Linked DNA regions of Homo sapiens. The protein of the gene in region 4 purifies or fractionates together with the protein of the main gene of each other region. This does not show direct contact. Each region holds a gene or a part of one and is shown on either strand. Other genes may lie near its edges.

The links.
Region 1: the proteins of DEFA5 (region 4) and HTRA1 purify together in Homo sapiens (co-immunoprecipitation; 3 studies listed by BioGRID and IntAct, with this or other methods). This does not show direct contact.
Region 2: the proteins of DEFA5 (region 4) and PLXNB2 purify together in Homo sapiens (co-immunoprecipitation; 3 studies listed by BioGRID and IntAct, with this or other methods). This does not show direct contact.
Region 3: the proteins of DEFA5 (region 4) and PLXNA1 purify together in Homo sapiens (co-immunoprecipitation; 3 studies listed by BioGRID and IntAct, with this or other methods). This does not show direct contact.

The regions. Positions count from the first base shown.
Region 1 is NC_000010.11:122,456,441-122,464,777, forward strand, and holds the start of HTRA1 (serine protease HTRA1 precursor), read left to right. Parts: upstream 1-5,112; 5' UTR 5,113-5,212; coding exon 5,213-5,684; intron 5,685-8,337. Other genes in the region: ARMS2 (age-related maculopathy susceptibility protein 2), read left to right, coding at 467-493. UniProt on the Homo sapiens protein: Serine protease with a variety of targets, including extracellular matrix proteins such as fibronectin. HTRA1-generated fibronectin fragments further induce synovial cells to up-regulate MMP1 and MMP3 production.
Region 2 is NC_000022.11:50,297,579-50,304,923, forward strand, and holds part of PLXNB2 (plexin-B2 isoform 3 precursor), read right to left. Parts: intron 6,244-7,345; exon of another isoform or gene 5,901-6,243; intron 4,092-5,900; exon of another isoform or gene 3,885-4,091; coding exon of another isoform or gene 3,769-3,884; intron 2,934-3,768; exon of another isoform or gene 2,920-2,933; intron 2,758-2,919; exon of another isoform or gene 2,548-2,757; intron 1-2,547.
Region 3 is NC_000003.12:126,978,486-126,986,190, reverse strand, and holds the start of PLXNA1 (plexin-A1 precursor), read right to left. Parts: upstream 3,077-7,705; 5' UTR 2,904-3,076; intron 1-2,903. UniProt on the Homo sapiens protein: Coreceptor for SEMA3A, SEMA3C, SEMA3F and SEMA6D. Necessary for signaling by class 3 semaphorins and subsequent remodeling of the cytoskeleton. Plays a role in axon guidance, invasive growth and cell migration.
Region 4 is NC_000008.11:7,054,552-7,061,097, forward strand, and holds DEFA5 (defensin alpha 5 preproprotein), read right to left. Parts: upstream 2,189-6,546; 5' UTR 2,147-2,188; coding exon 1,975-2,146; intron 993-1,974; coding exon 880-992; 3' UTR 753-879; downstream 1-752. UniProt on the Homo sapiens protein: Host-defense peptide that maintains sterility in the urogenital system.

The DNA.
Region 1 (8,337 bases), on a different chromosome or scaffold from region 4:
AGTCAGGAGTTTGAGACCAGCCTGGTCAACATGGTGAAACCCCATCTCTACTAAAAATACAGAAATTAGCCAGGCATGGTGGCAGCACCTGTAATCCCAGCTACTTGGGAGGCTGAGGCAGGAGAATCGCTAGAACCTGGGAGGTGGAGGTTGCAGTGAGCCAAGACCGCACCACTGCACTCCAGCCTGGGCAACAGAGTGAGACTCTATCTCAAAAAAAAAAAAAAAAAGTTCTCAAAAGTATTTTGAACTTCCTCACCTTTGTCCTATTTTGGAAGGAGGGGGTCTACATTGAAGAGATCATACAGAAATAAATTAATTGTTACAAAAGGAATGGAATGTCTATACTTCTTACCCTATTGAGTTACATTAACTGCATCTTCAACTTAATTTAAAGTGCTCCTCAACCTAAAATATCGTCATGTGTCTTTAAAAATGCATATTACTAAATCTATTTTTTTTTCAGTCTATCATCCACACTGCAGCAAGGTGATTCTGCCAAAACATATCTCCTTAAAAGCCAACTGGAGCTTCTCATCAGCATCAATGTGAAGCCAAAAATCCTTAGGAGGACAGAGGGAGTCCCTCACAACCTAGACTGGTCCCCTTCCCTCCAGCTGCCTCAACTGTCCACAGGACTCTCTTCCCACCTGCGGCCACACTGTGCAACCTGGAATTTCCCCACCTGGGCGGACTCATCACGTCATCACCAATTGGATGCATCTTCTGCTCTGTGCAGCTGGTGAAATCTTTCTCAACCCTTGAGATGCAGCCCAATCTTCTCCTAACATCTGGATTCCTCTCTGTCACTGCATTCCCTCCTGTCATCCTGCCTTTGTTTTCTTGCCCTCCTTTCTCTCCCGGGTGATAGGCATTAACTAAAATTAAATAAAAATTCAGATCATCCTTGCACTTGCTGCATTTCAAATGCTTGGCAGTCACATGTAGTTAGTGGCTACCCTCTTGGACAGCACAGATAGAGATTATTTCCATCACTGCAGAAAATTCTAGACTTTGAGCTTCTTGAGGACAGGGGCTTGATCATTCGACACTGCTTTACAGTGTCTAGCAGTGTCTACCCTGTGGCAGGGGCTCAGGAAATTTTTCCTGAACCGAACCTAACTGAACTGATGTGGGTTTGTCATCAGGGTGTACCTGCTGTTAAAGGAGGTTACGACCTCTGATGCTGGGGTGGCCAGAGGGGATGGGAGTGGGTCTGGCACTCTGAGGAAAGGGGGTGAAACCAGCTGAGAAGTCATCTTTTACCTGCTGGCATGGCCCCAGCCAGGGTTCTGTTGCTATGGGAGAATGGGTGAGTAGGGATGGATTACACCACCCTGGATCTAGAGGACAACCTGGCTTGAGGGGCATGGGGGACGCTGGAAGTCAGGGTAAGAAGCTTGGACTTCATTCTACTGGCATGGAGAGCCCCTGGAAACTACTGAGCAGTAGAGGGATAGGCTAAGCTTATAGGAGGAGCCAAAATTATTACTGTAGCTCCTTAGATCTTAGATCCTGTGACTTAGGAAAGGCAATAGGAGCCCCTGAGCATTCTGGGTCCTTTGTACATTTGGGAGAACAGAGGCCCGGAGTGGGAAATCGTCCTCCTGGGCAGCACAAACATGGCTGCTCCATTCCTATTCAGAAGCCTCGTTTCCTGATTAAGGCTCTGGCATCTGTGGTGTTTCATTGTTCATTATTCATGAATAGACTTGGCCCTGTTCAAAACTAAAGCTTCAATGCTGCAAATGAGGGCTGCAGAGAGGATGTTGGGGAACTCGTCTGTTTGGCTTCAAAACTGCCCCCTTTCCTCTGGAAAAATCCTCTCTAGAATACCGTGCCAAGGCCTGGTGAGTGAGAAATGAGTTTTCATGATGTATCAAAAGAAAAATGCTTCTTTTAAGAAAACGTCTTTATAAATGGCAGCAGATGGGGAAGAATCTAAAAGAAAGAGCAACGCTTGCAGGTTGAAAGCATTACCTCCAGATATGGAGACGTTAGGACTAAGGGAAGGTCAGAGATGGGCCCACGAGGCCAGGTTTCAATGGACTTACCATTTCCTTCTTCGTGCATCCACTGATGGACACACGTAGGCACACGCACCAACAGCCTCCCATGTGGACAGTCCAGGGTGCCCAGAACCCTTCCAGCAAGACTTTGATTTCTGTTTCGAAGGATTTCTTGAGGCCCCTCTGTAGAGCTGCTTGTCTTCTTCATAACCGGTGCCTGGGTCAGAGCAGGTGGGGTGAGCTGCACTCACAGCTGGGAGGTGAGTCTGTGATCTCATTGTGCAGTGGCCCTGCCAGGTTGCTCTTTCTAAAACCTTGGGTATTGCAAATTCTGCTTCTTAGGGACCGCTTGGTCCCCCAGTCCTCCCCCTGCTGACTCCCTTCCTGATGAAGCCACCAGCATGGCTCTCAGGGTAGTGCTGTCTTCCTTCTCTAGAACAGCCACGTGGCCCCAGGGCTGGCACTTACTGGTCACCGTGGTTACAGACGCCTCTTCTAGGCTGTGAACTGTCACAGGAGTGGGTCCACTTCGGCCGACACTTCCTCAGGGGTATTAAGTAGCTGGGGGTCCCCCTGAGTCTCCATCACCCTCTTACCCATTCTCCACCCCCTCCCCCACCACACATACACTCTACTCCCCCAGTGCTGAATAACTTGCCAAAGCACTGTGCTGGCACTGGGGCATGGTAAAGAAGACGGGGCCTCTGCCCTAGGGAGGAGGTGATGAGGGCAGGAATAGCAGCACAGAGGGTGAGAGGCAGAGACAATGGCACTGAGTGGGGGCACGAGGATGGAAGAGGAGCATGCTAGATGGGACGATGGGACCCAGCACTGACCAAATAGAAGCTTGTGGGTGGCACATCAGTCACTCCAGGGACATATGTGGTCACTGCCATTTTCCTAATGAAACTCCTCCAGTTATTAAACAAAGGCCCAGAGTCACAGACTTAAGGACCAGAAGTGGGATTTGAACCCAAGTCCCCCAGATGACAGGGCTCCCACGTGCTTCTCTAGGTCACATGAGCCCACGCTGGAGGGGAGGAGGGGTGTTTCAAGAAGAGGGGAGATGTGGGCAAAGAAAGGCACAGAGACCGTAAGCAGACAGGTGTGTTCCAGAAAATGCAAGTTATTTGGCACTGGGGGAGCAGAATGTATATGTGGTGGGGGAGGGGTGGAAAATGGGTGAGAGGGTGGTGGAGACTCAGTGGGATCCCCAGCTACTTAATTCCCCAACAGGGAAAGAGCCTAGAAACTCCCTCCACCTCCCGCAAAGCAGTGGGGAAGTTGCGGCCACACTGTTTTCGGTCCGCTCATTCCCTCTGCAGTCTGGCTGCTCAGGGGGATGGAGGAGGATGGGGCTTGCAGGCAGGCACAGCCGGTTTGGAAGGTGTCCTGGCTCCAGCACTCAACTTGTGGCATGACACTCAGGGGAGTCACCCTTTCTGGCCCTCAGTTTTCTCCTCTGTAAAATAAGGAAATTCGACAAAAATAAGTTATCACCAATTTATTCACCACCACGTGTCCTTTTAATTCCATCTGCCCCAGGACTGCAGTGGGGAGTCTTTCTTTGCCGATGGACTTCGAAAATCATCACCCCCCGCATTTTTTGTGGTTAACCACAGCTAGCCAGGAACTCAGGGCTTCTCATCAGCAGAGGCCTCTGCCTCTCCAGTATCCAGGGCCGAATGGATTTTGGGTCAAGGCCTCCCTCCCGCAGCCAGGAGGCCCTGGCTTTATGGAATATCGCTTGGAGTCCAGGGAGTCAGCATGGGGACCCCGACAGCTTTCCCATGCCCCAGGCTCCTGGGCCTTTCTGGGGGACCCCTCTGGACCTTGGGCATTAACAAGGTTCATATTTGGAAGGTGCTTTGAGGGGGCTTATAGGTATTTGGAGTTTACTTTTTAAACTATTTGTATTGGAAAAATAACGTGTGCACAAGGGAACAACCCAAATACAGAAGAATATTAAAATCCCCAAGCCCCCAGCCCCCTCCCATGCTACTCTATCCCAAAGTCAGCTCTGCCGGCTCACCCAACCCTGGGTGCCTCTGCCCAGGGTGGGGGTGGAGGTTTGAGGGTTCGGGATGAGGGCTGGACGAAGGGCCTCCTCTCAGGTCCTTGGACACGAGCTGTGCCCATCTGCTCAGTGTGGACCCAGGACTACTGCCCACAGGCCTGGTGCTGCCTGGGCACCCAGACCCACCTCCAGGGTCGCCCTCAGCCCTCCTGATGACTCTCGGACTCGCATCTGTCCCAACGGATGCACCAAAGATTCTCCAGTGGGAAATCAAATTTTTGATAACAAGTGTTTTGAAATAATCACGCACTTGGTGAAAAATCAAAAGAGGGGAAAACCCCTTTCCCATCTGAGACCGCTCCACCCTCGCCAGTTACGAGCTGCCGAGCCGCTTCCTAGGCTCTCTGCGAATACGGACACGCATGCCACCCACAACAACTTTTTAAAAGAATCAGACGTGTGAAGGATTCTATTCGAATTACTTCTGCTCTCTGCTTTTATCACTTCACTGTGGGTCTGGGCGCGGGCTTTCTGCCAGCTCCGCGGACGCTGCCTTCGTCCGGCCGCAGAGGCCCCGCGGTCAGGGTCCCGCGTGCGGGGTACCGGGGGCAGAACCAGCGCGTGACCGGGGTCCGCGGTGCCGCAACGCCCCGGGTCTGCGCAGAGGCCCCTGCAGTCCCTGCCCGGCCCAGTCCGAGCTTCCCGGGCGGGCCCCCAGTCCGGCGATTTGCAGGAACTTTCCCCGGCGCTCCCACGCGAAGCCGCCGCAGGGCCCCCTTGCAAAGTTCCATTAGTTTGAAGGACGCGAATCTCAGCGAGAGAACCTGCGGAAAGCGAATATGTGGGGCGCGCAGACGGGGAAACTGAGTCCCGCGAGAGGGCCGGCCTGTGCGCTGCCCCGCCCGCGCCCCGCCAGCACCGCCGTGCCCGGGCGCGCCCGCCCTGCCCCCTCCGCGGGCGGTCCCGGTCCAGCCGCCCGCCCTCCCTCCCGCCATCCGGCCAGCCCCCATCCCGGGCGCCGTGCCCGTCCCCAAGGCGGCTCGTCACCGCTGCGAGGCCAATGGGCTGGGCCGCGCGGCCGCGCGCACTCGCACCCGCTGCCCCCGAGGCCCTCCTGCACTCTCCCCGGCGCCGCTCTCCGGCCCTCGCCCTGTCCGCCGCCACCGCCGCCGCCGCCAGAGTCGCCATGCAGATCCCGCGCGCCGCTCTTCTCCCGCTGCTGCTGCTGCTGCTGGCGGCGCCCGCCTCGGCGCAGCTGTCCCGGGCCGGCCGCTCGGCGCCTTTGGCCGCCGGGTGCCCAGACCGCTGCGAGCCGGCGCGCTGCCCGCCGCAGCCGGAGCACTGCGAGGGCGGCCGGGCCCGGGACGCGTGCGGCTGCTGCGAGGTGTGCGGCGCGCCCGAGGGCGCCGCGTGCGGCCTGCAGGAGGGCCCGTGCGGCGAGGGGCTGCAGTGCGTGGTGCCCTTCGGGGTGCCAGCCTCGGCCACGGTGCGGCGGCGCGCGCAGGCCGGCCTCTGTGTGTGCGCCAGCAGCGAGCCGGTGTGCGGCAGCGACGCCAACACCTACGCCAACCTGTGCCAGCTGCGCGCCGCCAGCCGCCGCTCCGAGAGGCTGCACCGGCCGCCGGTCATCGTCCTGCAGCGCGGAGCCTGCGGCCAAGGTACTCCGCCGCGCTCCTGGGCAGCTCCCCACTCTCTCCATCCCAGCTCGGACCTGCTTCTGCGGGACTGGTGGGCAGGTTGAGGGGCAGCGAAGCGTTGTGGGGTGGCCAGGGCAACTCTCGGGGACAGGCAGGTGGGCCCCGGGGTGGCGGATTTCCGCGGGCTGCCTCGGAACCGAGCTTCGCGCCCAGCCCGGGGCCGGTTCTGCGCCCAGACGATGCCAGTACGCCCGGCCTGCACTCTGGGGCTCGAGACGCCGGGCGACCGGCCATGGAGTGCCCTGAGGGCAACCACACAGCGCGGGGACCCCAGGACAAATAAGAGGAATGGGGGCATAAAGGAAGGAGAGAAGTTCAGGACTGGGAATTGGCGCCTCGCAGAGCGGCTTCAGGACCACAAGAAGTCATTTCGGTTGCTTTTTCTTCTATTTACGTCCTCCGTCCCCTTTAAAATTCACTGCTTTGATCACGGGACCGCTCAGTGAAAACTGTATGTAACTCTTTTGGAAAGGAACAGTGTTTGCCGGCCCGCCCCGGAGTTTCTCCAAAAAGTCTACCCCGAGCAGGGAACGGTTTGGCACCGCTCTCGTTTCGGCGGCGTTGCTGCCTGTCTTGCTTTCCTCGTTTTGAGCCAGCCCTACAAAAATGAAAGTGGCTCCTTTTGAATAAGCTGAATCGGGCTTTGGATCACGAAATCTGCAGAGGCGGAGAAGGGACCGGGTTAGTGATGAGGAAGAAGTCTACCCCTCTGTTCCTACAGCCGCACACAGGACCTGTTCTGGCAGGGGAGACGGTGGTGATGGGGGAAGGAGTGGAATGGAGCAATGTCTAACTCTCTCGCGGGACCTTCCGGAGAGATGCTCCTCATCTTCAGGCAGAGGCCATGTGGAAAAATAATATCGAGTTCAGCAGCGGCCAGCCCCGCGTTGTAGGAACCAGACAGCGGGGCTTGGCAGTGCGCTTGGGCGCAGCCGTGCCGCTGCTGCCGGACCCCAGTGCTGCCTCCTCAACACGGGCAGTGCCAGGAGAGGGGCATAGGGGAGCACAGTGCAGAGGGACTGGTCTAGAGTTTACTTTATAGGAATATGGTTCGGTGTGACCAACTAGGGCTTAGCATAGTTTGGCTTACGTGGACGGGAAGATGCCAGAGCCGAACTGGGTGAAATTCGAGATTGCGTATTTCACCAACACAGGAGCACAGCCCTCGGGAAACTCAGCCTAGTCAGGCAGTAGAGAGTTGTCCCGGAGAGAAGTGATCCTGCAGACTCGAGAAGGGGCATGATGATAGCACACGTCTGTTGAGCACCCAGTCTGTGTGCCGGGTGTGTTACCTCTGTGACCTCATTTGGTCAAACGAGGAGGCAGTTGCTCCTCTCTCTCTCTTTTTTTTTCTTAAGAGACAGGGTCTCCCTCTGTCGCCCATGCTGGAGTGTAGTGGTGTGATCATGGCTCACTGCAGCCTCCGACCCCTGGGCTCAATGATTCTCCTGCTTCAGCCTCCCAAGTGGCTGGGACTACAGGCGGATGCCACCACACCCAGCTTCTCATTCCCGTTTTACAGATAGCGGAGCTAAGGTTGAAAAACTTGCCCAAGGTCATTCAGCTGGAATTTAAACCCAGACAGCCTCATTCAGAGGAGTCAGCCCAGCACTTAACTCCAAGGGTGTGGGAGAGGGGTCAGGTGCTGTAAATTTCCTGGTGGGCTGGACGTGCATCCCCCTCAGAGCTGGGAACAGCATACACAAAGCCTAAGACTTGTTTGGAGGTGAATAGATCAGTGTGGCTGGGGAACGTTTTGGGAGGGCAGCAGGAGTGAGCCAGGCTGGTGGCCCAGAGTCCCAGGGCTGAAGAGGCTGGCTGTGCCCCGTGCCCTGTGCGCAGATGTTCTTGAACTGGAGCAACTCAAAGCCTAGTGTAGTGTAGGGCTGACCTAGCAGTGGAGTGCGGAATGCATCCAGGGTGGAGAGTTTAGACTACTGCAATAATCTGGGTGTGAGGCGACAACATTGAAAAAGCATGTTTTTGTCCAAAACAAGCCAGCTGTTACTGGTCTCGCTGTTTGTGGTCTCATCGCACGGGGTCCTGAGTTGCTGGCACCATGCGAGCCGCCTAATTTATTGCTAGTGAGGCAAGTTGCTTAACAAGTTTTGGAGTTGGCTGAGTCCCTGTGTGGAGGAAAACAGGTCCCCCATTGGCCATCGGGCTCACAGCGGGCCCCCGGTGTACCAGTGAGGGGACAGCCACAGAGGGATAAGCATGGTGGCTTTGAAAGGAGGGAGAGACAGAGTGGGTACAATGCTTTTCTTATCCCTCCCTCCTTCTTTTGCAAATATTTATTGAGCTCTGTAGGGTGTCTGACACCGTTTGCATGTTTGTCTGTCTGGCACATCGGAGGTACTTGGTACGAGTGGATTAGTGAATGAATAAATGAATGAATGAAGACAAACGGGAGGTGCTTGCGATACACAGCCATTCTGTTTTTCCTTAGTGGAAGGCACTGCTTTGCTGCGCCCCCTCTCTGGATCTCACACTCCACCCTTGACTTTTCGGAGGTGTTTCCGAGGACAGGCGCCTGGGAGCCAGCAGACTTCATTCAGTCCAAGCCAGGCTCCAGGACTCAACAGCTGGTGCCCACGGGCAGGTCACTTGACGT
Region 2 (7,345 bases), on a different chromosome or scaffold from region 4:
ATCCATCTTGCCCTCAACACTGAGCCAGGCTCCATCTCCTGCTCACAAGATTCCCGCTTAGCTACCCCAGAAAAAGGAGTTTCTTCCTTAGGTGGCTGTGGTCACACCTGACGCTGCTGCACCCAGGGACCTCGAGGCCTGAAGTCCAGAGCCAGACCAGTGAGTTCACACCCCAGCTCTGTCACGTTCTAGCTGGCTCATGTGGGCCATTCAGAAAGCTGCTCTGTGCCTCAGTTTCCCCATATGTAACCTGGGGGTCATTATGGCGCCCACCTCAGAGGGCTGCCTTGAGGTTGAGTGGGTGTGGAAATCTTTACAGCTGTGCCCACTCAGAGAACGCTGCCTCACGACATTCCCACGTCCATGTTCACTGTGCTCCCTGGAAAGCCCCTGCCCATCCTTTAGACCCCGAGACACCCTCCCTAACCCAGCCCCTGAGGGACTGGCCTTGCTCTGTGGTCTATGGTCTTCCCCGACAGGCCCCGGCTGCCCCGCCGCCCTGCCCCAACAAGTCCAAACACTGGATCTGGTCACTGGGCACCTGCCGGTCCAAACTCAGTGAGCCGGGAAGGGGTGGTGACATGCAGGGGCGCGAGCCCAGAAGACCTGTCCCCGCAGGTCACCCCCAGGCCAACAGAGCAGAAGGGTCTCCTCCCCCAACCAGAACTCCGATGTAGGCCAAGGGCAGCACAGGGATGCTGGGCCTCCCCTCTACAACCTAGACAGCCTGGGAGGCAGCAGGAGCTGCTTGCTGGCTGGGCACCTGTGGCCCTCTCCTGAGGTCCCTTTTGTTTTTTTTTTCTGACCAGCAGCCCCCAGGCCCCTTGCACGGGCTGAGTCTGGCCCCCGCCCCTCCCACTGGGTAAAGGTAAACAAGAGGCATGTAAGGGGGAAGGACAGAGCCCTACTCCAGATGAGGCCAAGAGTGGGGGCTGCCAGGCCCCCAAACTCCTGCCAGCCTTGGTTCTGAGACCGCCCCAAGTCTTGGCTGCACTGCGGGGTGGTTCCAGTGGGGACTAAAATTGGGAGTTCTCTGCCTTTCAGTATTTTCAAGCAAACAGACTGGGCCATTCTTTTCTTTTTTCTGAGACAGGTCTCACTCTGTCACCCAGGCTGGAGTGTAGGGGCATGATCTTGGCTCACTGCAACCCCTGCCTCCCAGGTTGAAGCAATTATCCTGCCTCAGCCTCTCCAGTAGCTGGGACTACAGGTGCACGCCACTATGCCCAGCTAATTTTCTGTATTTCAGTAGAGATGGGGCTTCACCGTGTTGCCCAGACCGGTTTCGAACTCCTGAGCTCAGGCAATCCACCCGCCTTGGCCTCCCAAAGTGCTGGAATTACAGGCGTGAGCCACCACACCCAGCCAGACTGACCATTCTTAATGCTAAAATCAAACCAGCACAAAGCAGTCAGGCCCAGTGGGAGGGCAGGCCCAGCTTGGGGGCTGCTCTTGGCCAGGCCAGGCTGTGGGCTCTGGCACGGGAACCAGAGAGGGCAGGGGCCAGAGGAGGTGCATGGGCAGCGGCCCGGCAGGGGCCAAGATGGGGATCCAGGCAGCAGCCGCCATGAAGAACGAGGAGAGCTCGGGCCTAGGCCTGGGAGGGCAGGAGGGGGTGGCATGAGCACCTAGGACATGGGCGGTGGAGAAGGCAGAGGTCCTAGGGCTGTGCGGCCCTCCAGGGCTCAAAGGATTGGGGTGGACACAGGCCCTGCGTGGGGTGGGGGGGGGGCCCGGTGCGGGGGCGGGGGAAGCAGCCTCGGACCAAGTGAGCGATAGGCTGCCCCAAGCACAGGCCAAGGCGCGTCTGAGAGTGGCTGTCCCGGAACGGGGCGACAGGCGTCACAGAAAAGCCACGGAGGCCCCGGAGGCCCCGCAGCCAGCAGCCAGGGGGCCGGGCCAAAGCTAGCGACACACGCAAATCTGCAATTATCCCAGAGCGCTAAACACATCAGAGGAAACAAAACAGACGCGCCGGCGAATCCCAGCCTCCGCTGTTTTCAAAACAAGCGCGAGGGGGGTGCCGCGGGGCGTGGGGCTGGGGGGTCGGCAAGGACCCCGGCCGCCCCTTCCCGCAGCGCCGCGCCCGTGGGTAGGCGCGGGGAGGGACTGGGTGGAGAGCGCGCGGGAGACCCGGCGAGGGCGAGACCGGCGGCCCCGCCACCCAGCCCCACCCACCGGTGACCCGGGTCAGAGTTCAGCCCGGGAGGCGGGGGGCGGTGTCTCCTGGGTGGGTCTGCGAGCCCGGTACCCGGCCAGAGCCAAAGGCGGGCACCCGGCCTGTGTGGAGCGCCCTGGACTATTCCTCGCAGGCCGACCCAGGTGGCACAGCCCCTCCCCCGGCGCCGGCACCGCCAGACTCCCCGGAGGGCGCAGAACGGTTGCCCGGGAGCCAGGGGCAAAGCGCGCCCGGGGCCAGGAAGCGCAGGGACTAGGCCCGCGCCTCCTCGGCGCCGCCCACTGCCCCCCGCGAGCCCAAGCTCCACGGCCACCGCCCGCGCCCTCCCGGGGACTCCGGCGCCCCGTCCGCCCCTCGGCCTCGCGCACCTGGAGGGAGCACGTGGCCGCCTCTGGGACAAACCTCACCAGGCCGGGGGCCCAGGACGCGCGGGCGGGTGGGAGTCTGACCCGAGTAACAATGACGGCGGCGGCGACAGTCACACGAGCGCAGGAGACGTCGTCCCCGCGGGGCGCTCACCTGGCGTCGGGCACATCGGATCGCACAGCCGGCCATTACCTAAGTCCTCCGAGCCGTGGAAGGGGCGCGGGGAGCAGCTCCGCCCCGCCGATGGTGGCTCCGCCCGTGCCCCCGGTCGGTCTCAGGGCTCGGCCCCTCCCGGCCCAGCTGCCAATCATGCACGACCCTGCCCGGAGCAGCCTCCCGCAGGACTCCGGACCCAGGGTCAAGGCCAGACTCACCCGAGGCAAAGGCCGAACGCTCCCGGCACAACCCGACCTAGGAGCTGGGGCGGGGCGGGGCGGGGCGGGGCTCCAGGGACAGACTGATGTGGAGGCCTGAGCCTCGCTTCAGCGTCTACAGCGGTCCCCGCTGGACTCTCGGCTGAGGACCCCTCCCAGGTGGAGGCCGTCGCACCCCTTCCCCGCCAGCCTGGTTTCAGGGTGGGGTTCCTACTTAGGGCCAGCCTCCCCTGCAGTCTGGGCTCTGGGTCCCAGCAGGAAAAGTCACCCTGGCTGGTGGCAGTGATGGGGTCACCAGCCCAGGATCCTGGGGGTGCCCCATGAAGCCCCAGCTCCTCCTGTCACTTGCTCCAGCCGAGTTAGTCACAGCCCCCACTGGTCCACACCTCCTGACACACCCAGGCCACCTGGTACCCAGGGCCTCTGTATCTAGCCCTGGCCCTCAGGCACCCCCTGAGCTCACCTGGCCATGCCCAAGGGGCCTGCCCCAGCCCCCTCTCCGCCTCTGCACCAAGTGCAGCCCCTGTATATGGTGCGTCCCTAGACTGGGGCCCCAGGCTGCCCTCCCATCCTACACACAGTTGTGAGGCCCTCCTCAGCCTCCTCTCTGGCCACGGCCCACTGGCGCATCTGGAGGATGGTCCTCCCCAGCCCTCAGACAGAAGGTGGGATCCAGTTGGCTACGGCGCCCTGTCCCCACACGCACCAGGCCTGCAGAACCACCTCTCTCCTCAACCACCCCTTTCGGGGTCCCAGACCCCATCCTGTCCAACCTGGGCACAGCTGCAGCCCCCTCTTGCTACACCGTGGTCCTTCGGGTCAGAAAGCTGGGCAGCGCAATGAACCTACCGATGTCTCCGTGCTTCCTGAGGACCTCCTGTGGGAGGGGTGGGCACCGCCAGGCGCTCGGGGCACACGAGGCCGATGGCTACAGCAGGAACCACCAACTCATCAGGACAGGACATGCGGTCAGACAGCAGGCGGCCACGGAGGGACTCTCGTGGGATTCTGGGGCTCAGTCACTTGGAGTCTCTCCTGAAAGGAGGCCTCCCGGCCCGCCGGTGCCCAGCCCCACCTGCAGGCTCTCCTCTGAGTGGCCCCCACGCATCTCCCCCTTTCCAGCTCAACCCCGCAGCAGCCGGCTGCTCAGAGACCAGGTCCTGCCTGGATGCAGCTGGCTCAAGACCAGCCCCCGCCCACAGCCCCCTTCTCACCCCCGGGGTGGGCGTTGGGGGGTGGACGGGTGAGGCCCCAGCCAGTGAGCAGTAAGCAAGGCCTGTAATCTCCCCGTCAGCCTGTCAGCGCCTCAGCGGTCACCCCAGCCCCGCCTCGCCCATCACCGCTGAACCCCACAATTAGCTTGGGGCACCGCGCCAAGCCTGTGTGCCAGACACCACTTGCACACATGACCACACATGTGCAGACACACATGGCTGGGTGCTGCCGGAAAAGCCCTGCCAACAGGGTCTCACCCCAACACCCAGAACTCGTCCCCAGTACAAAGAGCCTGGGAGAGAAGCCTCAGGCCGGGGCACTTGGGCTAAGAGGGGCAGTGGGGCTCTCAGAACCCAGCGCTGCCTGGAGCCCCGAGGGAGGGGCCATGTGTGGCATGGGGAAGTGGGGTGGGGGCAGGGCCGTCTCAGCAGGGGAGAGGGGCTGCGTCTGCCCAGGATGAGCTGGGGGCTGGTGAGGCACAGGGTGTTGGGCAGGACCTGGGTCCAGGCCAAGGGTGAGGCAGCCCAGGGTGTGGGCTGGGCCCCACAGGGGCAAACACTCAGGGCTTTGGGAGGCCAGAGGGACAGGGATTTCCCAGTGAGGAAATGCCCATCTCAGAGTGGGGGCAGGACAGTGAGTGGGAGGTGATGCCCGTGGCTGGAGCTGTGTGGGGAGGTGGGTGCCCCTGGAGGCCAGGTCCAGCCCCTTGCTCCACGCGGAGGCTTGCTCTGCTCATGGTGGAGCTGAGGACTTCAAACCCCACAGGGCCTGGTCGAGAGCCACTGGGCCCCAGGTCTAGATGTGGAACTGGGGGACCCTCCAGCGAGCTTTGCTGGGCCTGGGCGGCCTGCCTGGGGCGCCCCACCTTCACGCCCTCCTCCCTAACATCCTTTTCTCCTGAAGTCCCTCAGGGTGGTCACCAGATCAGGCTCGGTGCCAACATAGGAGTGGGGAGGCCAAGCCCCTCAGCTCCCCTGGCCAATCTCTGAGGCTGAGAGGGAGTGGGGGGGGCCATGCTGGAGCACCTCCCTCCCACCACCTGCCCCTTGCCCCTGTCAACTGCTGGCTCCACTTAAAATAGCTTCTCCCCCTCGCTGGTGGGAGGGAGGCCCTGGTGTCAAGCCGGTAAGGCTGGAGCAAGGCTGGGCACAGGGCCTGGGCTCAGCAGTGTTCTGTGCCCTCCATCTCCTCCAAAGCAGGCCCCAGCTCTGAAAACACACCTGACAGGGCTGGGATCCACAGAGTCCTCACCTCCTGCTGGTCCTCAAACCCCACTCTCCATGGCTGGGTCCCTGAAATACTTGGATTACCCTCAAGCCCCCCGCCATCCCCCCAAGCTGTGGCTCCCATGCCACCCTACCACGTCTGAGTCACACAGGCCCAGGCCTCCCTTGCTTCCCCCAGGAGAGACCCCCCCACACTCCTGCTTCTGGCCTGTCCTCAGAGCCCCAGAACTCACCTAGGTTCAAAGCCAGACCCCAGCTGAGGACAGAGCATGGACCCCAGGCAAATGCAGTGACAATCACAGAGCACGCTCCTACCACAGCCACCCACGCAGCCTGAGGCATAGCCCCCTGGAAACTGCCTCGGCCTTCAGCACCCCACTTTGGACCAGCAGGGCAGGGGGGTTCCTCCTCTGAGAAGTCCTCAAAGCTGCCTGGAAGGAGCAGACAGTGCCCCCAGACGCCAATCTGACAGGGGGCCCAATCTGTCTCTGAGCAGGTGGCATGCTGGCTCGGGGGCCCCAGACCACAACAGAAGGTCACCTGGGAAGAGAGCCGCAGCCCTACACAAGGCTCGTGGGCAGGAACCGTCCCAGCCACAGGAGCAGACGCCCTTGCCTGGCCCCTCAGGGGGCCGTGTTCACACAGGAGGCCTTCTCAGAGGTGGACACCAAGCACTTCTCTCTCTTGCGCTTGCTGCGGGACTCAGCTGGGGCAGCATCAGGCCCAGAAATCGGTGCTGGACACTGTGTCTCCACACAGGGCCCCCCATGGAAGCTGCTGACCAGCTGTGCCAGAGGGGCCGGGGCCCTACCCCCAGGAGCCCAGTCCCTGCCTCTGATGCTGCTGCTGCTGGGACCCTGCTGGCAGAGCTGGTGGCTGAACTGGGGCAGCACCTCCCTCTCCTGCCCCAGGCCTGGGCCGGGACTCAGCTGGCACTGGAATGAGGAACTATTGGCTTTCAGAAGCCAGGAGACCTTAGGGGGCTGAGGAAGAGAGCTGGACCTGCCCCCAGGCGCCCTGATCCCAGCCCAGGGCAGTCTCCTCCCTCACCTAGCCTGGGACATGAGGCAGCTCAGGTGTGGCCTTAGGGGCTACCCCCAGGGAAGGCCACCAACCATAGCGGGCCACGGTGTGGGCTGGCCTCTGGGTGTGAAGGGCTCCAGGATCTGGGCTGCAGAGGCGGGACTGTGCGAAACAGAACCCCCAGCTCCACAGCCAGGCCAGCCCCAGGCTCCTCCCCAGACAGACATCCCCGGGGGTGGGGCAAACCTGCAGTACCACCAGGGGCAGCCTGTCCCACCATCCCCGGCACCACTGGGCCTGGGGCCAGTCACTGTCACAGGTTCATGAATCTCACAGGGCAGGGTGGATCCACTGGGGGGGTGCGGGGTGCCAGTGTTCAGGGCCAGACGGGAGGGGCCCAGCCAATCCCTTCACACGCTTGGTCTTCAGAGAGAAGGCTTCTGAGCCAGGAGGGCCACTGTGTCAGGGCCTGGCTTGAGGCCACACCTGTGGCTGGGGGAGCCCAGAACAGTGCAGGGTCCTTCCCTGGTAGGCAGAGAAAGGCAGGGGTCCTTACAATCCAGGGGTATGGGAAGAAGCAGGCCCTGTGTCAAGGGATGTGAAACCACGGAAAGGAAGAAGGTGGAGGAACCTCGACCAGAAAGAGGGAAGCTAGGGCAGCTGCCTCCCCGGGGCCCCAGAGCCTGAGCACCCCCCACCAGCCAAGGCTCTGACCCACCCTCCCCATCGTGTAATTAGTCAGAGACCCAGCCCCACCCCACCCACAGCCCCACCCCAAACACAAACAGCCACTACCCCTGAGGGAGGGAGGGGCTGTGGCCAGTCCCAGCCCTACTGAATCTCCCACCCCCAGAGAACCTGGATCTGCCTCAGAGAAGGGAGGTCAAGGCTGGGGGGCCACTTGCTGGCCACTGGGTGAATTCTGAGCAGCTCACCACCTCATCCCCAAACCGTGTCCAAGG
Region 3 (7,705 bases), on a different chromosome or scaffold from region 4:
TGAATCACTCACCGTTTATCAGTTCAAAGCAGGCCTGCAATTACCAGGGGCTGGGCTCTCCCCTCCTCTGGGATAATTATACACGTCTTAATGCAATTATGGGCCCTACTTTTTGTATTCAACAGGAGGGACCAGGCTAAGAAGCCACCATCCAAACTCCAGCCTGGTCTTGGGCCCACCGCCCCAAACTCCACCCTCACCCCACTGCCCCAACAAAGTCTGCTGGGAAGGGACTTGCCTGGGGTCACAGGGTTGCCGGCCAAGAAAGGGGGAGCCCCGAGCCTAGGGCTGGGTCCCTCATGCCCAGCATCTAATAAAGGCCAGTGACAATGCTTGGGCCACTTCTTCCACCTTAGGGGTATAAGACTTGGGGCTCAGACTCAAGGTCACCCAACTAGTCCCAGCAGGGCAGGGCCCAAATTTCGAGCTTCCAGAGACTGGACCAGCCAGCCAGCCTGCAGGGCTCAACTCTCATAGGCTTGGGTCTGCCTAGGAAAAAATGCATTCATTCCAAAGCTGGGCCCAGGTGCCAGGGTGCCAGGGGCCCATGCCGGGGCTAGGAGGGGAGCATGGGCAGATGCTGCACTCTACCGAGGAGCAGAGCTGGCCACTGTGGCCGGGGAAAGGCCTCAAGAGAGGACCAGGTAGCCTGGGAGCTGGTGCAGGAGGGTGGGCATTCGTGGTGGGGGTGGGGGGCAGAACAGGAGGAGCAAAGGCCTGGGGTGGGAAACACTGGCTGTGCAGAGGGCAGTAGGAACGGCTGTGGCTCTCCGGCATGGCCAGAGCTGTTCTAGGCTGAGGCAGAGCCAGAGCCAGGGCAGGGGAGGCTAGACTGGCCTTGGGATGCCGATGGGGCTAGCCAGGGAGAGAGAGGCGGAGAGAGACCCCGCGGTCTGCGTGCAGGAGCCCCAGCCCAGGGGCTCCTCTCCTGGACAGGAGGGGATCGCCGCCTGGTGGAACGCCAAGCCAACAGTGTCCCCTTCCCTTTCCTGGCCTGAGTGACACCAAAGCTCCTTCTCACCCTGAGAAACAAAGGCCCCCAAAGCCCTCCCCACAAGGAAGAGTCCAATCCCCCCAAGTCCTCCTGCGCCAGATCCTGCTATGGCTCAGGCAGGTTGGGGTGTGGGGCTGCCATCCTGCCCAGTGGCTCACAACAGCAGCCGGGGGGGAAGACAGCTGCTCCTGGCACTCCGCCTCCCCCACAACGGGGGTCATGGGAGGTGGTCCCAGTGGTTCTGCTCCCGACCAGTCCTAGGGGATCCGGCTCTGAAGGCCTTGGAGTCCTGCTCCTGAGAAAAAGTGCCTACCTTTGCAGGCCTTCCCCTGGGGCACCCGCTCCTCCCGGCCAGCTGCTCTAAGCTGCTCTGTGCACGGGGGCTTTCCTGGGGGCTCAAAACAGGCAGGCAACGACCTTGGGGGGCCAGGAGTCCAGCAAAGGGCTGTCTGCTTTGTCCACAGGCACCTCATGTGTCCCCCACCCCCAGAGCACACACTGAGGCCACAAACCCAGGCCTCCGCCCATGCTGTCCTCTGCCCAAAACGCCCTTCCTGGGCCCCACTGGCACCCCCCAGGAATGGAAGCCTGGCCCTGCAGCGAATCACTGGTTCACATGCCTGCCTCTGGCAGGGGGCTGGGTGCTCCTCAAGGGCCGGGCAGCATCTTGGTGCCCCTGGTGCAGCACCTGGCCTCTGCCGCACACCCCAAGCCGCAGGAAATCGAGGGGACCTGAGGCAAGCTCCTCAAGGGCCCGGGGAGCAGAAACTGCGCCCCATCCCTGCACCGACCCCCAAACCGGCTACGTGTGAAAGGAGATGGGGCAGCACGGAGCAGCCTGAGCCACAGGAGCCGCGCTGAGGGGACAGAGGCTCGACCACGTCCCCTCCCCGGCACACACACCCCTTTCTTTCAAGGGGCGTGGCCCCAGAACCCCACACAGGAGCCTGGGGCAGATCGCCGCCCGGGGCCGCCCCTCGGAGCCCCTCCCCTCCTTTCCAGGGCTGCACCTGGGACCTCACGCCGACCGAGGGGCCTCCCTGGAGTCCCCACTCCCCCTTCCCCTGGCAGCCCGGGATCGGCCCGCTGCCTCCAGCTTCGCCGCACATCAGGCCCGGGACTATCCAGGAAGCAATCGGAAGCCTCCGGGAGAAGCGGCTGACCCTGGAGAGGCCCCGAGAGGGGGAGGCCAAGGAGGCCCGAGCGGGGCGGCCTCCTGGGCGGCACCCAGAGCCCACCTCCCCGCACTCCGGGCCAGTGGGAGCGGTGGCAGCTGTGGTCGGGAAGCCGCTCCAACTTCCACCCCGCGCCCCAGGGCCGGCCGGGGGCTTAGCCTGCACGACCTCCTCCGGCCCCCGCGGCCCTGCTGGGAGGCTCCGATCCCTATCCGGGCCTGGCCACCCCGTCCTCGCCCGCGGCCAGAGGTCTGAGCCGAGGTCCAGCGGCCGGGACGGGCCTGGACACCGCAGGGGCCTCCCCGCGGGGCCGCCGCAAACTTTCTCCCCAGCCTCCGTGGAGGGGCAGCGCCCGCCCCCCGCCACCCCGGAGCTGCCGCGGGGCTCGGCGGGCCCGGCCGGGGGGCGGGGGAGGCCGCGGCGCTGGATCCCGGGCCGCGGTCCCAGCCCCGCCGCACGGGGGTGCGGTCTCTCCGCGTCGGCGCCGCGACCGCGCCCGGACACACGCGGACGCCTGGGCCGGAGCCGCAGGGACACGCGGGCCGCGGACACGCGCGCCGCAGTCCCCACGCGCGCCGCAGTCCCCGCGCACACCCCCTGCCTGCCGCCTCACGAGAGGGCCGCCGCCGGAGGCCGCCCCGCGCCCACCCACGGGCCGCCCGGCCCCGGACCCCAGCCCGGCCCGGCCCCCGCCCACCGTCCCGCGCCGCGGGGAAAGTTGCGCCCCGACTCACCCGCCGCCCCGGGGCGCGCCCCGCCGCCGGCCATCGCCGCGCCCAGCCGCCCGCGCCGCCGCCGCCGTCCGCCCCGCCGCGGGGCCGCCGAAGCCGCGTAGGCCGCCCAGGCCGAGGCCGCCGCCGCGCCCGGGCTCCGCTGCGTGGCCGCGCAGCCGATGCCCAGCATGAATGGGGCGCCGAGCGCCGCGCGGCTGCGGACCGGCCTCGCTCTCGCCGCCCGCGGAGCCCCGCGCCGCGCGCATGCGCCGCCCAGAGCCCGGGGGCGGGGCGGGGGCGGGGCCGGCGGCGGCCTCCAGAGGGCGCTCTGCCCCGCGCCGCGCGCCTGCAGGGGCCCACCGCGCGTCTTCAAAGGGCGATACGGCTGCCCGCCTCAACTCTCTGGGCGCCGGGGCCGCGCGGGCAGTTCCGGGAGCCCCCCGCTCTCGAGCGGGCTAGCCCGCGACCCCAGGAACAGGGCCTGGCTCAGTGTGCCCAGGCTAGGAGCATGGCCTCCTTTCACGGGGGGGGAAACTGAGGCTGAAGGAGGCAATCGCAGTTCCCAGACCTTGCGGGGCCGGGTGTTCCCAGCTCTCGGCCTCGCGCGTTCCGCTCTGTCAGATGGGCGGGCACCTGCGCGGGGAGCCCGGGCGCCCCCTGCAGGCCCCAGGCTGGTGGCGCATTCCCGGCTGGGGACGCAGCCCAGGGAGGAAAGTCCCGCGGCAGAGGCGTGGCGAGACGCGAACTCCGGCTGTAGCGTGGGGCAGCGGATCTACACGGTGTGAGGTGTGGGGCTGCAGAATCCAGGGTGACGGGCCAGAGCTGTCCAGGCAATACCCCCAGCCTGCATGGCAAGGCTGAGGGGCAGACACCCAGCACTCAGTTACTGTACTCACAACCGCCACTCCCAGGCAGGAGGCATCCGGGAGGGCCTCCCGGTGGACGCAACCAGGCCAAGGAAGGGGAAGCCGGCAACAGGAGCATCGATAACAGAGCAGATGGGCCAGGAAAACCCCGTCGTGGGAGGGCTGAGTCCCGGCTGGGGACTTGGCCCCCATCTGTAGCCTGAGGGGTGCGGTTTTTGCTGTGTGAATCACGTCACCCCTACAGAAGAGGAACTCTCTACAGTTCACATGGTTAACAGGGAAAGGGAATGGACTCATACCGGGCCCAGGTGTCCCTCCGCGTCTCACCCCGCTCCTCCCTCCCCAGGAGCAGCCACAACCCTCATTTTTGTGTTCATCTTTAAGTGCTTTTCTTTGGGTGTGACCTCTTATATTTGCACCCCAGAATGGGACGCTGTTTTGGGTGGCTTGTTCTGGGCATTACAGAAACGGGGTCACTCAGCCTGTGCTGTTTGCTCTGTCTGCTCTGTGTGGTGAGGGCACAGGGCAGCTGCTCGCAGGCATCGTCTTCGCAGCCTGTTTTGTTGGGCTCCTGCTCGCCCATTCTCCTGCCGATGGACATGGGATTGTCGCCTATCTGGAGCCATGATGAGCAAAGCTGTGATGAGCATCCTGTGTGTGCCTCTCGGTGGGCACCTTTAGATCCAGGGACGGTCTGCAGGGTCACGGGGTAGGATTTGTCTAGCTTCAGGAGATACAGCAAAACCGTCTTCCCAAGTGACAGCCCCAGTTTACACTCCCAGCAGCTTAGCAGGAGTGTGGAAGGGTCTGGCTGTCCCACATCCTCACCAATATTTGGCACTCTTTAGTTTTGCAAATCTAGTGGCATGAACTGGTTTTTCAACTAGGTGGTTTTGCTTGTCTGCTTTTTTTTTTTAGAGACAGACAGGGTCTCGCTCTGTCACCCAAGCTGGGATGTTGTGGTGCAATCAGAGCTCACTGTAACCTCAAGCTCCTAGGCTCAAACCATCCTCCTGCCTCAGCCTCCTGAGTAGCTGGGACTACAGATGGGCACCACCATGCCTGGCTAATTTTTTTTTTTCAAGAGATGAGGTCTCTATGTTACCCAAGCTGGTCTCAAACTCCTGGGTTCAAGTGATGCTCCCACCACAGCCTCTCAAAGTGTTGTGATTAAAGGCATGAGACACGGCACCCAGCCTCATTGAGTCTTACTGTGTCGCCCAGGCTGGAGTGCAGTGGCTCGATCTCAGCTCACTGCAACCTCCACCTCCTGGGTTCCAGTGATCCTCCCACCTCAGCTTCCCGAGTAGCTGGCATTACAGGCGTGTGCCACCATGCCCAGCTAATTTTTGTTTTGCCATGTTGGCAAGGCCGGTCTCAAACTCCTGACCTCAAGTGATCTGCCCGCCTCGGCCTCCCAAAGTGCTGGGATTACAGGTGTGAGCCACCATGCCCAGCCTCATTGTGGTTTTAACTTACATGTCCCTGAATGAGGCAGAACATCTTCCTCAAAAGTTATATTTATTATTTTATTTCCCAAGCACTAATACAGTGCTGGCTCTGCTACCTTCTACAGATGGGTGGGCTGAGGCTGGAGACGTGCTCAAGTTCCCCAGTGGATAGGAGGCCGGGCTGGGAGGCTAATCCCAGGAGTCTGGCTTCTCCAGTCTGTGGTCTTGACCCAGCCACTGGGCTGTACTTCCCCTCCCTTCCCTGGCAAACAAGACTGGAGCGCTTTCTTTCCTCACGGACTACCGAGGCACACGTGTGGGCGCAAATCCATCCTCATGGCTGGTGAAGGCAGAGCAAGTCCTGACTGCTCTCCGAGCCTCGATTTCCTCATCTGTGAAATGGACGTGAGAGCTTGCAGAGCTGTGGTGAGGGACACAGTGAGTGTGGACACCATGGCTGACCTCGGGGAATGTTCACCAGCTCTTGTCTGCGCCACCTGTCACCAGCACCAGGGGCTGTCCCTGCTGTCTGCCTGTTCCCGCCCTTTTGCCCCAAGGCAGACACTCCTCAAGGAGCTTCCTGCTCTGTACTCACGGTGCCCAGGAGAGCCTAGGCCTCTCCTCTGTGGTAGAGCCCCCTGTCTCCAGCTGCGTCTTGGGAAGGTCCAGGGCCGCTGGAGTCTACGTGTCCAGGACCAAGCTCCTGGTTAACCAGGTGCCTCCCTCATTTTCCCCATCTCTGCGAAACATGCCACATCCCCCAGGTTGCCCTACTGGGAACCTCCATGCTCCCCATGTCCCCTGCATCCCTCAGCCTGGTGGATTCTTCCCAAAAATATATTCCAGAACTTTCCACTTCCCTCCATCCCCACTCTGGGCTCCTCAGGAAGGAGCACCTCCTCTCTGCTCTGCCTGCTGTACTTGGTAACACCTTTCTGTCCAGTCCCCAGACAGCAGCAGCAAAAGCCATCACAGTGAGAATCTGCTCATGTGACCCTCTCATTATGCCCTGGAATTCCTTCTCCCATCATGAGCAACTGTGGATTCCAGGTGGCCTAGGTCTCAGCGCCACACAGAAAATTCTAAGGTTTTTAGGAGACCAGAGAGCAGATTCGCTTCCTGTCCCTGGGCTAGGGGAGGATTTCATAAACAAGATACTAAAAAAATAAAGAAAGGAAAATATGAGTCAATTTGACTACATTAAAATTAGTTACTTTTGCTCATTAAAAGTTATAAATAATGAAATAATGAGACAAGTCAGGATCTAGAAAGAGATGGCTTATAACACATCTAATTGTCAAAGGATGTGTATCCTGAATATATAAAGAACTCCCAAGAGTCAATAAGGAAAAGGCTGTGCCGCCACAGGAAGGTGGGGAGAAGACTGCACAGGCAGTTTGTGGGGACAGAGGCAAGTGCCTCTTGCTATGGATGGGCTGTGTGAGGCAGGCTCTAGAGCCCCTGCGGCTCTTGTCTGGCCCCGGCAGCAGCTGCCCTCTGTTTAGCTCTGAGCTCCTGGTGTGACCACACTGGGTCCTGACACTGCCCTCTGAGGAGGGACTGCAGCACCCCAAATGCAGACAGAGAAGTTGGAGGTGAGCAACCTTGGAGGAGCTGGGGTTGGAGCCGGGGTCTGTGACTTTGGGGCTCCTGACCCCACATCAAATAGAGGGGAAGTGACTCAGCAGGCTGCTGGGCTCTTCCCTCTGGGTTTCCCATGTTGGTTTAGCTTCTGTTTGCCTTCGGCAGCTCAGAGGGCTGGGGAGTTTGTAGAGTAGTGCAGGAGATTCCTAGGAACATGGTTCCATTTCAGGGGGGTCTGGAGAGGAGCTTCTTTTGGTGCTTTCCCATGCTCCTGCCCCTGGGGCAGCTCTGGGGACTGTTCTGCATTTGTACGAGTCAGAGCTTTCTGCAAAAGTATACTTGGGATCTCCTTCCCCTTGAGGCAGCCCCACTGCTACTGGGTGAGGAAGGAGATGGGGAGGATCCAGGCACCCCCAGCTCTGGGGAATGGCCCTCAGATCCCTGGTCACTGGGTTCAAAGCTGGTTGGGGGGGCATCTGGATTCCTGCCTGAGCCCACTTTGGAACTGGCACCACCACTGCCAAATATTCCTAACCCATCCTTGTCTCACTTCCCCTGCTTCTGTCACCTCCTGCCTGGAGGACATGGGGACCCTTAGTTGCCAGCGCAGTCCTCCCAACTCTGCTCTCCACACTGTGGTCCACAGGGATCTAATAGACAGCTGGGGAGACCCCTCTGCTCAGACCCTCTAGTGGCATCTTTTAACACATGAAATGCCTCCACACATGTGCACACATACGCACACACACACTCAAACATACAAACACACACATACACTCATGCAAACACACACACAAGTGCAAACACGCATGCAAGCACACATGCACACACAGGCACACGCATGCATATACTCAAACATGCAAGCACACACACACATGCAAGCACACACACATGCAAGCACACACATGCACATCCACTCACA
Region 4 (6,546 bases):
AAAACAGAGTGAAATAAAGCTTAATGTAAAGTGTATATATTTAACACATCTGCTTAAAATTTCAAAAATTATGTATAGCAATGCTTTCCCACTTTTTAAAATTAAAGGACAAGTAAACATAGCCCATTAGATCTATCTTTCCTTTGAGCCAACAACCACTTTTTGCCTCTCATTGTAAACTTCTACTTTTTGAGTATCATTAGGAATGCATTGAATTTTTAAGTTTCAAACTATTCCAATTAACACTTATATCCTGTCAGGAATGGTGGCTCAAGCATGTAATCCTAGCACTTTGGGGGGCTGAGGAGAGCAGATCACTTAAGCTCAGGGGTTCGAGACCAACCTGGGCAATATGGTGAAACCCTGTCTCTACAAAAAAATACAAACCATTAGTAGGGTGTGGTGGCACATGCCTGTAGTCCCAGCTACTCAAGAGGCTGAGGTGGGAGGATCATTTGAGCACAGGAGGTCAAGGCTGCAGTGAGCCGAGATTGCACCGCTGTACTCCAGCTTGGGTGGCTAAGTTAGACACTGTCTCAAACAACAACAATAAAAAACCCAATTATATTCATTTTTGTTATTTTGTTATTGCTCTATGATGCTCAAATTGTGCATCATTGGAATGCAAAGACCAGTTAACTTAATGTAGATCAGAATTCTCAATACAAAGGAACCATACAAACCACCATATAACAAAGCAAAAGAAAAAAAAGGAAAAAGAAAAGAAAATTAAAAAGGTCAAACACACTAAGTTTAATGCTTGAACTTTATTTTGGAGAGAGAAATTTAGAAAGACACAAGGTACACAGAGTAAAATGTTTTTCTTTTTTCAGGACCTTGAACTGAATCTTGCACTGCTTTGGTTTCTATCTAGGAAGCTCAGCGACAGCAGAGTCTGTAGAGGCGGCCACTGATTTCACACACCCCGGAGAGGGACTCACGGGTAGCACAACGGCCGGTTCGGCAATAGCAGGTGGCTCTTGCCTGAGAACCTGTGGAAAGAAGAGAGGGTCAGGCACAGCGAGGGAGGTGGGAAAAAGGACAAGCACAGCCAGACTAACTGAGATAGTCTAAATAAGAGACACTGTATCAGTCATGTTAGGATGGAGAAAATTCATGTCTTTGTCGTAAGTGACAAGAAATCTTACTAGCTATGTGTTAGTCATGCAAGATCATAGTTTTTTTCCCCATGTGAGTCTATCCAGGATGTATTTATTACCTGCTCCCTGGTCCAACAATATACCTCTCAACCTCAGGGTTACCTACTCTTCATTCTGCTTCATCCACACGCCTAATCTTGACCTCCATGTGTGATTTCCAGGTCCTAACAAGGCTCCCTAAAGCACCTGAATCAGTTTCTGAAATGCCGCATTGTGCATGCTAATGTCATGGACCAAATACTTTGGTGCTCAAGGAGTCTTTGAAGACTTTCCAAATTCAAATTCTTCATTCTCTGTCTCTCCTTTTTTTTTTTTTTTTTTTTTTTTTAACATTTTACATATTTACTTGTTTTAATTGACAAACAATAATTGTGTATATGTATGAGACACAATATGATGTTTTGATCTAAGGATGTATTGTAGAAAGATTTAATCAAGCCTATTAGCCTACATCAAAACACACCTATAGGTTCCTCTCTAGGTTCTAAAAGCTTTTCCAATGGACAAAGTAAAACACTCTCTATATAACTAAGTCTGCCCATTTAGATCTACAAAGAACTAGTCAGTGTAGCTCTTTCTATCTTAAAAGTAGCAAATTTCACAGAAATATCTTGGAACTGAAAGTCTTAGAAAAAAGAAAATCTTTTAGATTTATTTGGTTCTCACTGATTAATTTATAGATGAGAAAATCAAGGTCCAGGAAGATTAAGTAAAGTCACTCAAGTGAGGTAGACCTTTCCACACTTGACTCCAGATCCTTTCTCCAATCCTTTTTTTCTAGATTTTGCAGATGTGCAAGATTGATGTCTCCTACCTGAGGTTCTAAGAGCAGAGAGTCCATTTCCTGCAAAGGAGATAGCAAGGTCCTGGTTGTCTTCCCCAGACTGCTTCTGGGTTGTAGCCTCATCAGCTCTTTCCTGGAGTGACTCAGCCTGGGCCTGCAGGGCCACCAGGAGAATGGCAGCAAGGATGGCGATGGTCCTCATGGCTGGGGTCACCTGCAGGAGGGAGAGCAGGAGTGGATATGTGGGGAGTGAGGAGTCAGCCTGGATTTATAGCTCTGCTGGGAGAAGACCTGAGACAGAAGCTGCAGTGAGAGGAGGTGGGCATGTGATTGGGAGGGGAAGGACTGCCTTTGTTCTCAAGATCCCTTTGATGCTCCTCTTTCTCCCAGCTTTCATCAAAGCGTGAGTCTGTATGCTTAATGCCTCTTCTTGATCCAAGGTGTTAATGATGATAAGGGTATTACTATCCTGTTCTGTTTCCCATCTGCTTGAGTATTTACTTTTATATATTCAAAAAAGAAAAACAACAGCGCTTTCATTCAAGAAGTTTGGGGATCAAATGCCTCTTGTTTTCTGAAGATGGTCCCTGGTACTCTCTGGATGACTCTCTGGGGGCAGACCTGGGACTCAGTGGAGTAGAGAGTTAATTCATTGCAGGATTCAGGGATATTACTAACCTCATGTAGGAGGCTTTTGAGATCTCGAGGTGAGTAGTCTCCCGCTGGTGCCAGTATGGAGAGGTCAATGACCTTATCAGGCTATAGGGGAAATGAGTTCAGTAAAATAGTAGGCCAAGTTTATCAGATTAAAATAAAAATTCGGATTTAGTTCAAGGAGTTGGTGTGATCTGAATGCATCACATAAAATGTGTAGCGGGTACTTCTCTCCACTTTGGGGAATATCAAAGTAATTTAGGTGCGTACAGCCCCTTTCTGAGATTTTTTTTTTAGTTTTAGAAAATTGTAAATCATGCACAAGGAACAACATTCAAAAGGTAGAAGTCATGAGCTCTCATTTCTACCCCCAGGCCTTCAGTTCTGACCCAGCAAACCATCACTATTAACAGTTACACATAGTATTCTGCACTTCGCTTTTTTCACCTGTAACATTGGCACTTTGTATATCAAAATACATGGAATGCTATTATAATTTTAATAGCCTTATACTATCCCAGGGTTTGTATATGCCATCACTTATTTTTTGTACTGATAAAATATTATAAAATTATTACAATTTGGTTATTTTTAAACTTTTGCAGTAATAAGTAAAGTTACAGTGATTATCTTGTATATATGTTCTCTTACCTATATGGATAAACTTATAGAAATAGAATTGCTGTGTCAAAGAATGCATCTTAAGCCAGCATGGTGGTACATGCCTATATTTCTAGCTATTTGAGAGGCTGAGGTGGGAGGATCACTGGAGACCAGGAGTTCGATACCAGCCTAAAAACATAGTGAGACCCCTTTCTCTTAAAAAAAAAAAAAGAGACTATATCTTACACATTTTTAAGATATTACTACATATTTCCATAATATCACCATATTTGATCCAAATCCTTTGGGGCTCAGTGGGCCCTTGGAGAGTCTCTATATTTGAATTCCTCATTTAATTTTTTTCAAATTTATTTATTTATTCATTGAAAAATAATTTTCTGTATATTTGTAGGGTATGATGTGACGTTTGGATTGATATCCACATGGGAGAAACACATAAGCTAATTAAGATAGCCATCACCTCACCAACTTAATTTTTTAAGGAGAATTACAAATTGATTCCTTTAGCAGTTTGAAAGATACAATACATCACTATTAACTGTGGTCACCGTGCAGTGCCATAGATCACTAAGACTCTCCAGCATAACTGAAACTTTGTACTCTTGGCTCAACATCTTCTCTTTTCCTATCTCACCCACCTGCAGCTTCTGATGACCACCTTTGTACTCTAGTTCCATAAAACTGACATTTTAACATTCCATGTGTAAGTGATATCATATAGTATTTGTCTTCCTGTGTCTGGTTTATTTCGTTTAGCACATTGTCCTTTGGTTCCATCCATGTTGTCATGAATGAAGAATTTCCTTCTTTTTTTTTTTTTTTTTTTTTTTTGAGACGGAGTCTTGCTGTCGCCCAGGCTGGAGTGCAGTGGTGCGATCCCGGCTCACTGCAACCTCCGCCTCCCAGGTTCACGCCTTTCTCCTGCCTCAGCCTCCTGAGTAGCTGGGAGTACAGTCGCCCGCCACCATGCTCGGCTAATTTTTTTGTATTTTTAGTAGAGACGGTGTTTTACTGTGTTAGCGAGGATGATCTCGATTTCCTGACCTCGTGATCCGCCCGCCTGGGCCACCCAAAGTGCTGGGATTACAGGAGTGAGCCACCGCGCCCTGCCAATTTCCTTCTTTTTTAAGGCTATATGGTATACCATCTTGCATGTATACCATATTTTCTTTATTCATTCATCCACTGATGAACATTTAGGCTAATTCCATATCTTGCTTATTTTGAATAATGCTGAAATGGACATGGGAGTGCAGATTCTTCTTTGATACAGTGATTTCAATTTCTTGGGAGATATACCCAGAAGTGGGATTGCTGGGTCATATGGTAATTCTATGTTCAGTGCTTTGAGGAACCGCCATACTATTTTCCAAAATGGCTGCACTAATTTACATTTCCACCAATGGCCTACAAGGGTCCCCTTTTTTTTATATCCTCACCAACACGTATTATTTGTCTACTTGTTAAAAGCCATTCTAACAGATGATTACCTCTTTATGATTTTAATTTGCATTTCCCTGATAATTAGTGATGTCGAGTGTGTTTTTCATATATCTGTGGGCCAGGTTTATTGCCCTTTTTTAAATTGAGATGTTTGTTTTCGTCTTATTGAGTGTTTGAATTCCTTATATCTTTGGGATATTAGCCCCTTATCAGATATATGGTTTGCAAACACTTTCTCCTAGTCCCTGGATCATCTTTTTGTTTCCTTTCTGTGCAGAAGTTTTTTAGTTGATGTAACCTCCTTGGTCTATTTTTGATTTTGTTGTCTTTGCTTTTGGAGTCCTGTTGTAGAAATAATTGCCCAGAAAAATGTCATAAAGATTTCCCTCCATGTTTTCTTCTAGTAGATTTACAATTTCGGGTCTTTTATGTAAGTCTTTAATCCATTTTGAGTTGAGTTTTGTGTATAGTGTGGGATAAGTGTCCAATTTCATTCTTCTGCTTGTGGATATCTAGTTTTCCTTACACCTTTTAGTGAAAAGACTGTCCTTTCCCCATTGTGTGTTCTTGGCATCTTTGTTGAAGATCAAGTAATCATAAAGCCCTGGGTATAGTTTTGGGCTTTCTACTCCTTTCCTTTGGTTATTGTGTCTGCTTTTACACCAGACCATGCTGTTTTGCTTCCAATAACTTTATGATACATTTTAAAATGAGAGAGCATGATGCCGCTATCTTTGTTATTTTTGCTCAAGATTGCTTTGGCTATTCGGGGTCATTTCTGATTTCATGCCAATTTTAGTATTTTTTTAATTCCTGTGAAAAATTGCATTGGAATTTTGATGGGGATCTACAGATCACTTTGGGTAGTGTAGACATTTTAATAATATTAATTCTTCCAATCCATGAACTCAAGATATCTTTCCATTCATTTGTGTCTTCTTCAGTTTTATTCATCAATATTTATAGTTTTCAGTGTACAGATCTTTCACTTTTTTGGTTAAAATTACTTCTAAGAATTTTATTTTTGAGTGCTATTATAAATGAGATTGTGTGGGCTTCTAAACCTTTGTGCCAGTCCAAACTCCTGTCTTTATTCTTAGTGACTCCTACAAAATTAGAAAGTGTCAAGTCATGCTATTGCCTTGAGAGAGTGGGAGAGAAGCCAGACCTTTAGAATACAGTGGAGAGGTTGGGGTGTTTGATATGTGTTTCAGTTTTTTCTTTCTTTGCAGAGAAACTGATAGAGTTTATCTCCCACTTATTCTGCCTTATGAAAATGAGAGGATCTGAATTAAATCTGTAATATCTATAATATTTATTTGAATTCGTGAATTAACAGGGAGCCTGGGAGGGACTAATTTCCTGCATCAGTGATTCCAGGTTTCATGGCCCTTGTTTTGCCCTGGTGGCCATTTAGCACCAGGTTTTAAACCATCTGTATTTGTACTGCTTCTCTATTTCTCACTGGACATTGCTAAGTTTGTAGATAGCGTTCCACAATTGTTTCCTAGCCTCCGTCTCTCTGGCATTGTCTCTCTGAATCTCTAGCAATGACTGAAGAAACAATTTGGGACATTTTTGTTCCAGTTCTAACCTTTCTCCATGAATTCTCTCATGTGTTTGATCACCCAGAGTCCTTATTATTTGGAGAAATTGATATCTTCAGTCTCTCTTCATCCTTCTCTGACCCCAAAATTAATTGGGTGAGCAGAAAATCTGGAAAGATAAATGGGTGGTTTAAAAACCACTGTCCAGGCCCTGTGGTGTGAGAGGCAGAGCTGAGCACTGGCCAAGCCAGAAGATGCCCGGTGGCCCATCTTCCCAGGACCAGGCCCTCACCGGCAGCCCATTGCTCAGCCTTAGACACAACTCTGTTGCCAG